Linked DNA regions of Homo sapiens. The protein of the gene in region 2 interacts with the protein of the main gene of each other region in a pairwise test. Each region holds a gene or a part of one and is shown on either strand. Other genes may lie near its edges.

The links. The genes of interacting proteins can lie anywhere in the genome.
Region 1: the proteins of COL3A1 (region 2) and LOX interact in a two-hybrid assay, tested with the Homo sapiens proteins (one study listed by IntAct).

Annotation. Positions count from the first base shown.
Region 1 is NC_000005.10:122,075,260-122,083,242, forward strand, and holds the start of LOX (protein-lysine 6-oxidase isoform 1 preproprotein), read right to left. Parts: upstream 3,001-7,983; 5' UTR 2,727-3,000; coding exon 2,096-2,726; exon of another isoform or gene 1,743-2,095; coding exon 1,634-1,742; exon of another isoform or gene 283-1,633; coding exon 145-282; exon of another isoform or gene 67-144; coding exon of another isoform or gene 56-66; intron 1-55. UniProt on the Homo sapiens protein: Responsible for the post-translational oxidative deamination of peptidyl lysine residues in precursors to fibrous collagen and elastin. Regulator of Ras expression. May play a role in tumor suppression. Plays a role in the aortic wall architecture.
Region 2 is NC_000002.12:188,977,363-188,984,442, forward strand, and holds part of COL3A1 (collagen alpha-1(III) chain preproprotein), read left to right. Parts: intron 1-729; exon of another isoform or gene 730-799; intron 800-7,080. UniProt on the Homo sapiens protein: Collagen type III occurs in most soft connective tissues along with type I collagen. Involved in regulation of cortical development.

The sequences.
Region 1 (7,983 bases), on a different chromosome or scaffold from region 2:
GAAATTACATAGAGAAAAATTCTAAATATAAGTAATAGCAATTTTCTCCCTTCAGGTAAGAAATAAGACTTGCATTTGTGATATCAAAAATCACCTGAGAAATGAAAAGCAACCCAAAAGTACCCAGGAGGCCCATTTACTTACTGATGACAACTGTGCCATTCCCAGGAATATCTTGGTCGGCTGGGTAAGAAATCTGATGTCCCTTGGTTTTTCACTCTTTGGGGAAATCTGAGCAGCACCCTGTGATCATAATCTCTGACATCTGCCCTGTATGCTGTACTGTGATTTTGAAAAAAGAAAAATTATTATATTCATGGAATATTAACTAAAGACAAAACTACAAATAAAACATCCATTATATAGTAGTGACAATCCTCCTTTCCCAACTAGACTATCAGTTCCAAGAGTCTAAGGCATTTTGTTTCTTTTTGTTCATTGCTGAATCCAAAGCTCCTAGAACCGTCTTGGAGTAGTCAGAGCTCAATGAATATTTGGTGAATAAGTGAATGAATAACACCTATGGAAATCCACAGATCTTAACAGTAAAAACATAATAAGCATTAAAAATCTAAATGTCAGAAGTAAACTTTAGAATCAATTCAAGTTTGATCATATGAATGAGTGAAACTGAAGTGGAAATAATCCCCCAATAAAAAAAATAATTCATAGATGTTTATTACAAACTTCAAACTTAACAAAACTTTTAAAAAAGTTAATGAGCTGCAAACTGAGGAAATAACTCTAAAAGAGCATACCCAGATTTAAATTAATAATTTTGTAACTTCACTATCCCAAAACAATGGCAGTACTGTAAAAACATCATAGGGAGTTCAATGGTGTGAGTGATGCAAGACTCAGGAATGAAAATGAGCTTGGATTTCTTCACTTCCTTTAGCCTGACAATTATAAAGGGTCAAAGTGGAAGAAATGTACAAATAAACATCACTGTGTTCCTACTAATATATTTAGTGTGTCTATATGTTCAGGTGGTATTGATGACCTTATTTTACACTTTAAATTTTTATTAAAACATCTTTTGCTCCCTCTGCTGTTTCCCAGCAGTAAACCCAGAGAACCCCAATCCCAGAGTTACTATTTTATTTTAGAATAGTGGAAAAACAAAGCTCTTGCTCACGGTCTTATTCTGGCTGAAGTAATACCAAAACAACCAAGTTCATCGTGGTCTCAAACAAAAGAGGAAAACTTAGTCTTTACCAATGAGGCTACGATGGCAAATTTGCCCCGAATCTTTTAAGGGGGTATTAACACACCCTTCCATTACAATAAATTTTTTGAATTACTGTATAGTTGTTTTATGAAAAGTGATTGGAACAATTGACTCCCAAGTTTAAGTATCTTGGAAAAAGAGCATGAGACTTTCAGTCTCCAGGATAAGGGTTTCCTCCACCTCTGTGATTCCTGCTGCACTTTGAGACAGAACCCACAGAAATCTTCAAAAATATTAACTCTCCGTCCAGGTCAGCATGCCCAGGAGGTCACGTCCCACTTCCCAGCTCTTGTCCCACTTCCTAACACTTGTCTGCGCGAAGCAGTAGCAGTCAGAACCAGGCACCAGAGCGCCCCCTGAAGGTAGACCGGGGAGCGGGGCCTCAGACATATCAGCCCGTACCTGGCCAGACAGTTTTCCTCCGCCGCGCATCTCAGGTTGTACATGGACATCTTCTGCACGTACGTGGACGCCTGGATGTAGTAGGGGTCGGCCACCAGGTCTGGGAGACCTAAACGTCAGCAGGCGACGGGCGCAGCAGTGAAACAACCCGGCGCCCCCCGCTCCAACTCCCTACCCCTCTAGGTCCCTTACTCCTCACCCTTCGCCCACCGGGACTGCAGAGTGGAGCGGAGGACAGCAAGAGAACTGGGGACGCCCGGGACTGCAAAGCAATGTGAAAAGGAAGCAGGAGGGGCCAGACGCGCGGTTTGCACTGGATTCCAGGGCTGCCACTGCAGGCGCGTGGGGGAGGGATCGGATCTGCGAGGACCGGGGCCCGCCGCGCCCAGGCAGCCACGTCGAGAAGCCACATAGCTGGGGACCAGGTGCACGGGTGCTTCCAGCGGACTTGGGGGTACTTACCGTACTGGAAGTAGCCAGTGCCGTATCCGGGCCGGTACCTGCCCCCAGGTCTGGGCCTTTCATAAGTATCGTAGTAGTTGTAATAAGGGTTGTCGTCAGAGTACTTGTAGGGGTTGTAAGGGTCGTCGCCCACCATGCCGTCCACGCGGCTGGGCGGCCGCAGGTTACTGAGCGCAGGAACTTCTCCCGGCGCTGTCTGGTTCTCCGCGCGCGAGGCGCCAGCTTCGCGGGCTCTAGATGTCGAGTAGCCAGCTTGGAACCAGTGACGGGCGGTGGGCCTGGGGCGGCCAGCGGTGACTCCAGATGAGCCGGCCGTCCGCGTTCGCGCCGCGGCGGTGCGGTTGTCGCGGATCAGCAGGATCGGAGTGCGGGGCTGCTGGGCGGAGGCGTTGGCTGCACCAGGGACGGCGGCGCCCGGGTCCCGGCGGCGCTGAGGCTGGTACTGTGAGCCCAGGCTCAGCAAGCTGAACACCTGCCCGTTGTTCTCCCATTGGATCTGCTGGCGCCAGGCGCCCGGAGCCGCCGGCGGCTCGCGCGGGGGCTGCTGTTGGCCGGCGGCGGGAGGGGCGCAGTGCACTAGCGCGCAGAGCTGCAAAGGCCCGAGCAGGAGCACGGTCCAGGCGAAGCGCATCACTCCTTTTGCCAGATTGACCCCGCTCGAGGAGGACGTGGCTCACAGAAAATAAAAACGGGGCTCAAATCACGTGAGGGAAGGAGAAATCTTCAACCAAGGAGGCGAGCGGAGCACGGGTATCTCAGTCTCCACCAAGCAATGCCAAGGGTGGGATTCAGACCCTTCCCCAGTCAAGGCGGCTGCTCGGACGTGGCACCCTTCCCTTTCCCCTTTCTCAGTCCTGGAAGGCAACGGGGAGCGGCGCGGCAGTCCCGGAGAGCGGGCAGTGTCTGGAGTGAAGGAAGGAGGAGAGATTTTAAACTTTCTGGCACGTTTGCAAAGTTACACAAGCCGTTCTGGCCCGGCCGCCCCTCAGCTATTTGTTCACGTAATGCGATTGGAAACGTGCAAGGCGGACAGCTCCTCGCCTCTGCCCCTCCCTCTCTCCCGTCCCTGCCCTCCTCCCCCCAGACACGTTGCACAGGGAGCGTTAAGGGGAAAGAACAAAACGGAACACACATCCTGAGACACACTGGCTTAATCTGGGGCGAACATGCAGGAATTTCAAAAAACTCAGACAGGCGAAGGCAGCCAGGCCATGGGGCGACGCCAAAATATGCACGAAGAAAAATGCTATTAGGTCACCAGCCCTTGAGAGGCGGGAAGTCGGGAGGTTGGGAGGGTGCTGGGGGTGAGAGGGGGGCGGGGGAGGATTGTGACTAAAGTTTATCCATAAAAGAGTTAACCAGACACATTTCCCAACGCACACTCTCTCGCTTTTATGGGAAGCGCCCTCAGCAAATAAACCCCAGGATATCAAATTTTGTTTTTCTGTGTGTAGGTAATATGAGAAATGGGTTACAAATTTATTTCCTACAGTGAATATTTTAATAACCAAAAGTGAAATTGTACAGGGAACAAAGCCAGCTAACGCTGCAGCTATGAATAAACCTGTCTCTTTTTCAAAATGCCGGCCTGATTTGTACTTTGAGTAGAAGTGGAGAACCATCTTTCATCTCCACAGTGTCTACAAGGAAGATTCATTAAAGACTAGAACAAGTCTGCATGAGAAAGCACTCAGAAGGCATCTTCACATATGCATTTTATAAGACATTTTTCTCCTTCATCTTATAAAGAAGTTTGACTTTGGATTTAAAAAAAAATTAAATCACCTCTGTTAAATACTGAAAGTCAGTAAAACATCGCATGCTGTTTAATTTATCTTCCAATCTAAACAAAGAAGTTGCTGAAGAAACAGCCTTAGAGTTTAGATTTTGGTAAAGAGAAGGAAGTAGGAGTGGTCAGAAAAGAATATAGGTGGGGGATAAATTATGCTGACTGGAAAGAGATACATAATGGACGAGTTATTCATATACCACTCAGGGTTTGGGCAGTGCTAGAAACTTTGCAACAAAAAATGGTTACTAAATGGTCTGATTTAACACTACTACTCAAAACCAGATTTTGGTAACCATTTTATTGGTCTCATCATTGGGCTATTGTCCAGACATACTTCAATATTCACATACCTCTGTTAGTCTCTGTCTCTCCATATTTAATCACCACATTTTGGTGGTGTGGTGGACCTCTGCTGATTTTGACTGCCTCACATCCATTTTCCTTTTCTTTCTAGTAAGAACAACCGGATTTTCCTTTGAGGGGCTTCCCACCCACCCCACTCAGTTGCATAGTGGAAGGACTGAGCATTTATGAGACTTACCCACTTCAAGAAGTGGTCATGAGATCCAGGTTTGGCCAATCAAGCCATCTCTCTAGATGGTTTAATTTTATCTGGGATCTGAATCTTGAGCAGAAGGACACTGTCAAAAATGTTGCTCCTCAAACTACTAAAGAAAGTGCCCAGGCCTGGCGCAGTGGCTCACACCTGTAATCCTAGCACTTTGGGAGGCCAAGGCGGGCGGATCATTATCATTCGAGGTCAGGAGTTCGAGACCAGCCTGGCCAACATGGCAAAACCCCATCTCTACTAAAAATACAAACAAACAAACAAACAAACAAAAAATTAGCTGGGCATGGTGGCACATGTCTGTAATCCCAAACTACTCTGGAGGCTGAGGCTGGAGAATTGCTTGAGCCCGGAGAATTCCTTAAGCCCAGGAGGCAGAGGTTACAGTGAGCGGAGATCCACCACTGCACTCCAACTTGGGCAACAGAGTGAGACTCCATCTAAAAAACAAACAAACAAATGAAAAAGTGCCCATTATGTCTTGCTACATGGATCCGTCCCCTGCCCCGTCACCCAAGCTACTTTAGGTGAGTACATTCTAAGACCTGGTTCTTCAGCATTTCCTTCTTTCTTTCTTACTCCCCGACCCACCCCCCCATCCCCCCCATACATTCCTTTGTGACTGAACATGGTCAGAGTCAATTTCTGTTGTTTTCCACCTAAGAAGGCTGACTGACACTGAGCAGGGTGTGGCTGCTTCTGTCACCTAATCAGTTCACATTATTCTCAGTTCAGGGTGATGGGTTTGGTTCAGTTTGAGTCAAGTTAGATTTCCCCTGCCCATGACTGCACAGCATCCTTGGTCACAGGGAAATATCACATGGAAGCTCGCCAATGTGTTGGCAAATCTATTACTTACATGATAATTTGCACTTGAAGATGAACATTCAAATGCAATTCCCACTGATGGCAAGTCAACAGTGACATCTCACTCTCCCTATAAGGGTCAGAGACATCCCTAGCTGTCATTTTACAGACTTGCTGCAGTGCTTAAAATTAAACTACTCAACTCCTCCAAACCCACTAAGAAAGATGGAGTGAAAAAGAAGAAACAGGTGTATAGATTATAATTTCAATGGACAGGCCAAATTACAGGAGAAGCAGGAAACGAAAGAATGTAATTATCCCTCATCTGAAAAAGGCTCTGCATGTGCCCATGAACAGCTTATTCCCTAGACTAGAGAAGTCTGAAACTGCTATTACTTGACCACAGGTTCCTGAGGGAAGACCTCTGCTATGCCAGACATAGTGTCAGAATGGCAGACCAAAGCAGCACCCCTAATGGGAGGGTAGAAAGTTTACACTGGATCCCAGATAAAATGCCCTGTTTCCAATCCTAGTGCTCCAATAAAAAAAAAAAAAGCTGTGTCTCTTTGGACAGTTTGTTTACTATCTCTGGCTTTTGTTATATTTAGGATTCAAGGATTAACCAAATTCTTTCTAAAGTATTTTTCCTAGTTTTAAAATCTCTGATTTTTGTGAATATTCAAGTTATTCCAATTACTTTCGATTCATTGATAATAATGTGTTCATTATGATTATTAATATTTAATCAAATTTTTTTAGTTGGAGTTTAAAACATTGGATGCATTTTGTGTGAGTTAGAATCTGCAGACTGCAATTTTCTTATTCTACATATTTTCCAATAGTGAAAGTCAATACATATTTATTTGTTTTACAAACATTTCTTGAACACATATATATGTTCCGAAGTGTAGTATACCATAATGGTGACTTGCACACGTGAGCACTAAAAGTTTAGAGCTGAATGAAGTTGATCCTTTTTTCCAGATTTGCTCCAACAGACTTTAAAATTCTTATCAGAGTATAAATAACTGACTAGAGCAGTAATGATGTGCAATATTTATTTTCTTAAAACATGTACACACTACCAAAAGAGAAAAACACACTACCCTTTGTCACACATGCTAATGAAAAGCTTAGTTGATTTTCACTCTCCTTCATTTCCTCTAAAATCTCTCTGGCTTAGGACTCTGTCAGCTGAAAAACAAACATGTGGCTACCACATTTGGGGACAATACAGTGTTTGCAAGCCCTGCGGGAGATAATCTAGCCACACATTGTGTTCCCTGTTCAATAACAAAACTATTATTCACAAAATTGGAGAAACCATAGTTCCTTTCCACTCAAATCTGAGATGATAATGATGATGACAATAATAATAATAAGCCACGGCTACATCAAGATACAAACAGCTTTTTTTGCTTTGATAAGATCCACAGCTGATTTCACTTTTGACCATGAGATTTTCTTCTCGTGAACAATTCTGCAGTATGTGCCATAAGAGAAGGGAAGGAATGTTGCTAATTCTTTTTTTGAGTTTCTAGCCCATCAATATCAAATCTTTAAATGGCAATGTCTGGCCCATTGGCCAAGAAATGAAAGTTGTTGTAATGCTATGTTCCTGGTATTTGTTAAATACATTTATTTTTGTAGGACATTTCACATAAATGGAAAACAGAAAGCCGAAACCATAAAGCAGGGCCTCTGAATTGCAGAAGCCAGAACAGTAATGCCACATTCAAAGCAATCAGGTTCAAGTGTAAATTCTTTTGTTTGAGGCTCAAGAAGCTCATACAAAGCTTGTTTTTTGGTAAAGAGTAATGGTTGTATGTGCTTTGGTTCCATGTGGTTTGAAAACAAAACAGCACAGAGAATAAAATTTAAAAAGTGGAAAGTTGGAGATGTGTAAGGGGAAAATGATTGAGAAAACAGAATACCATATAACACAAAGGAGAATACACTCTGAGTGTTGAATTAGGACATTGAGGATACTTAAAAAGTAATTAAGAAATGTAACAGAGTGAAATACAGAACTAGAAATCTTTTTACTTGGAGTGAAATGGAGGAGAGGAGTAAGTTAGCCTTAAAGTTAACAGTGTGCTTGTGTTCCCTTCTACTACTTATCCTAGCCTTCTGCCACATACCACTTCCAGGTATTCACCCAAATATAAAAAGTAGACAGTTGGGTACACACTTGTCTGTGTGTCAAGACCAAACTGAAAAAAAAAAAGTATAAACAAACTGAGTAGAAGAATTCCAGAAATAATAACTTTTAAATGTATCTGGCTTGGTTACCCATTCCTTTGGGCCACCTAAGGAATGGAAAAGTGGAGTTTAACTCTAAGGAATAGAAAAGTATTTCATTCTGGTGTCCTTAATGCATGTTCACGTGTGATGAAGTAAAGAATGTTAGTTACTGAAACAAAATGGGAAAATGAGAAGAGGTGATATGATAGGAGAATGGGTCTTTGAAGTACAGGGGATCAGAGTTCAAAGTAATTAGTTCTATTAACAATAAAAATAAGGGTTCACCGGGAGGCGAAGCTTGCAGTGAGCCGAGATTGCGCCACTGCACTCCAGCCTGGGTGACAGAGCCAGACTCCGTCTCAAAAAAAAAAAAAAAAAAAAAAAAAAGGGTTCAGCCAATTGGCAAAATTGCTTACAAGTAAAGTCCACATGATTTAATTGGTCCCAATAGACAGTCCAATGGCAAAATGGCAACGT
Region 2 (7,080 bases):
TTTTAAAACTGTAAATGGACTCAGAGAATCAGTTTCTTATTAGACGTCATGAGAGTATATTTTTTTCATTATGCTTTAAGAGGGAATTTGTAACTTGCTCAGGTAACATTCAAGTTTTCTGGTTTGTGTTTGTCCCTACAATTAAACACACTGAACTAACAGGAAAAGGTTACATACATTTAGGAACAATTGCACTTTTAAAGGGAGAGAATGCATAGTTGCTCACATATCTCAGTGTCAGTCACCTAACATGGATCAGTGCTTTATTTGAGATTACAAAACTAGAAAATGACGGAGTCAAGGCTAGGACCAATATTCTGTTCAGTCTTAGATAATTATAGAATACACATTAAAATCAGATATTTGAATTTTCTTAATTTTGTAACTATTTGTCATTGAAAGGAGATACTAAAAAAATTATATATCGTCCTAGAAAGTACATGAACTAATAATGCATTTCTAAAGGTGAAAAAAGAATAGGTATTTTTCTGTTTAATATTCAATTTTATAGAGAGTAGTACGTTAATTTTTTTAAACCCCAGAAGCTCAGGATCTTATCATTTTAAAAGAAATTATCACCAGTTCTGTGTGAGTAAATAAAGTATTATAACACTTTGTGTTTTTCATCCATGATACCTTGTATTTACTTACCTGAGCTTTTTTTCTAGGGAAAGAAAAATGCTCAGGTAATAACAGAGCCTTGAAAAATTTGGATTTTCAAAACTACCTATTTATGTATAGGCCTTTAGATCATCTGATGTTGAATACTCTTTAAGTGATCTAAAGGCCTACATATAAAAAGGTATTTTTATTAAATTCTGGAATTAAACATTTCAGCATTACAAGAAAAGAAAGCAAATCCACTGGAACAATTCTGGGAAAGAAGGAAAGACTGTGATTAAATGCCTCTTAACTACTTCAGATTCCTGGATTGATGTCTTATCTACAGGCTTCTTTTTAAAAATCAAGAATGATTGGCTGTGAGTTTACCAGGATTATAGTTGAGGCTAAAGGACAGCTCCTCAGGAAAGCCCCTGTTCTACATCTACGGTCACATGCTGGACCTTGAGTTGTCACTCAGAGAAAAGAGTGCCATCTACCGAAACTCCACAGTTTCCATTGTGAATGGCTTCTTTGGTGCAGAGTTCCAAAAATTATGTAGCCCAGCTCTTTAATTTTGTAACATCTAATGATATCACCGCCTTGAAGTGATTAAAGTAGATTGCTTAAAGAATTAAAGCTTTAAAGATGAAAGATGTTATTGCTTTTGCTGGACATGAGGAACAGTTGTAAAGTTTCCAGGTCTACAATAACTTTCTGGAACCCTCTCAGTGAACTGTTTCTTGTAAAAGTTTTCCCTAAGATAAAAGCTCAATCCCATTGTTTCCACACTCAAAAAAAAAAAAAAAAAAAAGATCATATAGTGTAAAAAAAAACTCTCCAGACTTTTCAAAGGGGAAACTTTGCCTGTTTCATGTCAAGATGACAACGGAAAAAATGAGATAGCTATTCTTACATAAATCATTTGTGAACTGCAGTTGGGGGAGTTACATTAACCACCAGAGTTTCAGTCTGTGTCTAATGAAAACACAGCAGAAGTGGATTCCTTTCAGATTAACTAATAAAACCCTTGTTTTTTTCCATGACTGAGGTCAAGCACTGCTGTTTAAAATGTAGTCTTAATGAACAAAATGAAACGTTGAAAGAGGACGAGTCAAAATGCCCAAAAGATGTAAACATCAAAGAGAAAAGATCCAGAAATTATTAAAAGTTAAACTTCCCTTGAATTCTAGTATTAAGAAAGTACTGCTTCAGTAAAATGGCATATATTTTTCTGAAACTGTTTTTCTATAGTATTTTGTGTGGAGGATGACAGAGACTGCATTTCTCAAGTAAATTAAAATCACAGAAATACTCTTTGGAGTTGCATAGCATGTTCACAACGTTCCAGTTTCATTCAGTGAAAACTTCTGATGAACTTAGATGTATATTAACATGAATCATTTAGTAACTATATTTTCTGAAAAACAGTGTGTTAATGAGACATCTTAAACATATTTTTGCATTGGATGCAGAAGTCTTTTCTGTCTGGTACTATTGTTGTTAGAACCCTACTTTTTTGTATATAGCAAAATGTATGCAGGGTTTCTGAGTCACACATTTATTCTGTTGGTGGTCTGGATGTCATCAGGGTAGCTTTAGAGATATAACCCTTCTTCATAAGGTCAAGAGAAAATAAACAGGAGAATTTAACTCCAGATGGCATCTTCCTGTTTTGAGGCCAGATAGAAAAATATTTTGCAAAGAACTGTTGTCCTTCAAAATATACCTATCTAGATTCAGATTTTAACCTTGCAGGGATAAAAAATCATATGGGACAGAGCTTTGGAGTTGGCTTCTTTAATCGTACTCAGTTTTGAAATAGCAGAAAGAAAATAGAATGCAGTAATTAAGAGTATCAAATTTAGAGAAAGCCTTCTTACACTCAGATCTTCTTTTTCACCCTGACTGTGTAACCTTGGGAAAATTACTTAATGTTTCTGCAGTTAAGATTCCTCATCTGTAAAATTAGGATTATGACAGCTGTAAGCTCATAAGGCCTTTGGGAGTATGAAGCAAAATAGATATTCAAACTACTCAGAGCAGTCCCTACAAGATAGGAGGTACTATAGCACTAGTTTTACTAACGCTGGCAAATAAAATTACTCTAAGGAAGAAATTAAAGTACTTAGTAACTTAGTGATAAGGATGGTGAAATGTAAAATTTTATTTATAAGACTATACAATTTAAAGTTGTTTGCCAAATGTAATAAGACAAGTAGAATATATTCTCTTCAATGTTTTTATAATTTGACACTAAGAAGATTTTATTATATATGCAATTGCTGGTGGTTAGATATATGATACTTAAAATTTTCTAATTATCTAATTATTTTTATTTTTAACAGGATAAAATATTAATCAACTTAAAGGACATTTCTAAGGAGATTGAATTCTAAAAGATTAATCTTTTAGACAATTCTAAAAGATTAATCTTTTAGACAATTCTAAAAGATTAATCTTTTAGACAATTCTAAAAGATTAATCTTTTAGACAATTCTAAAAGATTAATTGAATTCTAAAAGATTAATCAACTTAAAGGACATTTCTAAGGAGATTGAAAAAGCATATATCTATAAAATATGAAACAAGAAAATATCTACAAATGATAATTTATCAACTTTTTTTCCTGGAGGTAGCAAGAATAAATAAAATCTTATTTTCTATGCAAAACAGTGCTTTTAAATTAAAATTATTCACCTAGAATGTCTACAGATACTTTCTTCAGAGTCCTTTTTGTTAAGTAATCTAACATATTTTAAGATACTCTGATAAATACATAAGCAGCAGAAAAAATATTTTATTAAAATTTATGTTTTCCAAACAATATCATTTAAAAGGCAAACCAAACATTATTTCAATTGGAAACTATATGAATGCCAAATACCCACATGTACAAAATATTCAGCTTTCTAAAGTAATGAAAATAATTATGATAATTTATATATCATATCTGTGATTCTTAGATTTTCAGATTATACAACATCTTTTCCCAGATAAGGATTTAGTAAGAAGAGAAAAGGAAAAAACATTCACTTTTCATTCAAGCCAAATTAATTAATTTAATTAGGTGCTTTAGGGAATAATATTATTGCTCCAAAAATAGTATTAAGACAAACATAACATTCATTTTTTGTCCAAACAATATGATTTCTTCAAGTCAGCATGATTTAACATGAAGAATGGAAACAAAAAAATCACAAAATAGTAAGCTTTATGCACATCTAAAAATATAAAATTATGTTATTTGGCTTTATTTTTCTCTAAAATTCCAAAATAGAAAACTAGGAAAGAAGCAGCTAAGAGTGGTTTAAGACATGTGTTAGCTTCAATATGTTTTATATTATAGATCCCAGCAAGGAGATGATTGAGTTTAATACATTGCTTGTGTGATCACAAGTAAATTTCTTTCAGAATTGTACTTCGTAGTAAGGAACAGAAACACCAAATGACATGGGAGATGGAATTTAAAATTAATTATAAATTGGAACAGAGAGATTTAGTTTAAACAACTAAAATAATGGAAATAATTGGAAAGTCCATTACTTTTCAATAGTAGAATGAAATTATTTGCCTTTTATTTAATATTTTTGGAAAAAATTAACTTATTTTTTTAACCGAAGCTACTCTGAATGCAGATATCTAAGAAATGAAGAGAATAATATGAGATGACTTACTTCTAAATCCCATTTTCTATTCTATTTCTAAATGTTGCAAATGGCTAACTAGAGCATTTTTATTCCTCTAGAAACAAAACATTCTTTTCCTTGACTTTGCCATGATTTTCGCACATATTACTAGGTATTAAATGAAGGTCCATGAAACATCAATCTAAGAGCTTTAACTTTCAGTAGAATATATTGCTAACTATATTTTGTCATGCATGGAATAATAAAGGAAGCTATACAAAACTATTTTTTTCAGCAAAGGTAACTAAGGTAGAAAAACAGAGAAAGGGCTAATTTTCAGCCACAAGTTTTTACAGGAACTGACTTCTCAGGAGAGCCAAATTTATTTCAAGTGGATGTGAAATAAGTTATGGCAATAAATAAAGTTGCATTAATTCTTATTTTTTAAACATTCCAACTCTCTTTTTTTTACTTAAAACAATATGACTTTCTAAAGTAAAACAAAACATACATGCACCATGTTGACTGTCATGTGCAGGTGAGAAGAGAAAAATATTTTAAGAATATGATAATTTTTAAAATTGCACTAAAATAATCTTTATATTGAGGCCTCCGTGTTTTAAAAAGTACTATAATATGTTTCTAATAAAATTTAGAAACAATAAGCTAAATAACAACGTTAATACTTATAACATTGCATTTGACCCAATTTTAACAAACTCATTTACAATTTTAATAAGTCAATATTGTGCTCATTTATTTAATAATTAGCAGAACAAATGGAAAGTACTGTATTTCTAATGATGTGAGGACACCCTTAATGAGACATAAACATAGGAGGATGAATACACAGGAGGGAAAAGTATTTATGTTAATTTCTAGGCAGATCAAGAACATATAGAAGATACTTAAAATAGGAAATGTTTGAGCCTAGCTTTAACTATTATCTTCATTTGTCTTTAATATGCCTTTAGTATTCAATGGCTGTTTTTCATAATCCACGTGCTGTATTAAGTGTGAAAAGATATGCCTGATCCAGAGGCAATGAGCTAAAAGAATCATCTGTACAATCTAACAATGCTTTTGAGGATGGATCTGGAGGGCTTAAAATACACATTATTAATGGGAAAATCTTGGGCTGAAACTAATCTGTAGGAATATTTCATATAAAGTTGATTTGGAGAAAATTTTTAAGTGGTTCATTTTGAGAAAAGGAACCAATGTAATTACAGTGTTCCATGTAATTTTACTGCACAATCTTCCAAACCCAAATTTTCGGACCTTTTCTGCAGACTGGTGAACTTAGTACTTAAATATGAAACGCCAGTTCTGTCTAGAGAACAAAATGAGTTTAATGCATAGACTCACCTGTTATTACTCTTCACACCAATGTGTAAATGACTGTTTGCTCTTCTATTAAATATATTTTCCGTAACACCATTCAAATAGGCCTACTTCATTTCCACTGAGATAAGCATTTTGGTATTCAGCTTTTATATTCACTAAGAATTAAGAAATGCTGTTTTAAAAGCTTAGGAAATGTATATAGAAAATATATCCCATGTTCTCATATATGTGTTTCAGACATAGGGGAGGAATTAGAATAAATTTTCTAAATAAACAAATTATTTGCCTACTTAAAATTGCAATTAAAAAATGAAGCTTTCCTTCGTTAGCTGTAAACTACATTGAGAAATTGTAACATAAAAAAGAATGGATTTTTAAAACTTCTTGAGTAGATCAAGTGTCTTGTACAATATCATTAAATTTGTATCAGAACACATAAATGGAAATGAGGTGGGGAAGCAATTGCAGTACTTTCTAGAGTCTAGGTTTTGAAATTCTTTTTGGTGAACATTTACTAAATCAGCTAAACATTTCAACTCATTTAAACACAAACCTAAATTATTATTACCCTAGACAGAGAGATGATATAGCAACGGGACCTCGAAAAGGTGATCTTTTGTGGCTGCATGTAGTGCCCAGATGGAAAAATCTTAGGACCACTAAAAGGCCTCTTGACCACTAGGCGGCAAAAACTAATTTTGAACTACTTGCCTACTCGGTAGCAGGCCTCTTTCAATAGACATTTTAAATATCTTGGCTTTGAGAAAATAAAAATTTCACCATCTCACAAAAATATAAATTACTGAACAGTACATCATTTGTTGTTTGCAAAAATTTTTGCAGATGCTTAGAAACTTATTATTTATTTACTCAATTACTGGCAAACTATCATACTAATTGTCAAGAACTAAAGTTGTATTTAACCACAATACACAGCTAATGCCTTAAGAATTGAGACCAGGTTTTGTTTTGGCAATTCCTAAGCTGATTCATAGTTAATAGCTGCTGAAATTTCAGTACCTTGTATATAATTATGAAGCAAGTCTAAAATTTTGGTTGAAGCAATTTTTTTTACCATTTTAAGCCACAAATACAGATGGTTATGATTCATATTTTCCCTATTATTTTTACTTATTCCTTGCCAATGTTTATTTTAAAAACATCTTTTTCTTTTCTTTTTGGTGATTTGGAAATGTCTTTACATCCATATGGGATATACAATATATTATGTCATATCATGTTGAGCTACTAATGCCAAATAGAGCTAACAGTGACATTCAATACACATAATAAGTTCTGTTAAAACTTTCCCAGGAAAATCTGGTAGAGTTTTATGCTGCCAAGATTAGCTCAGTTTTCCCCTGAATTTCTCAACTAGGTTGATAAAATCCAGAAAGTCTTCAGAGTTAGTGACAAAATCATCTCTTTAGTTTAATGCTCCCATCTGCTGTTAAGGCAAAGAATAGCAATTGGGTAGAAGAGCTTATTTTCAATGTTCCTTTAA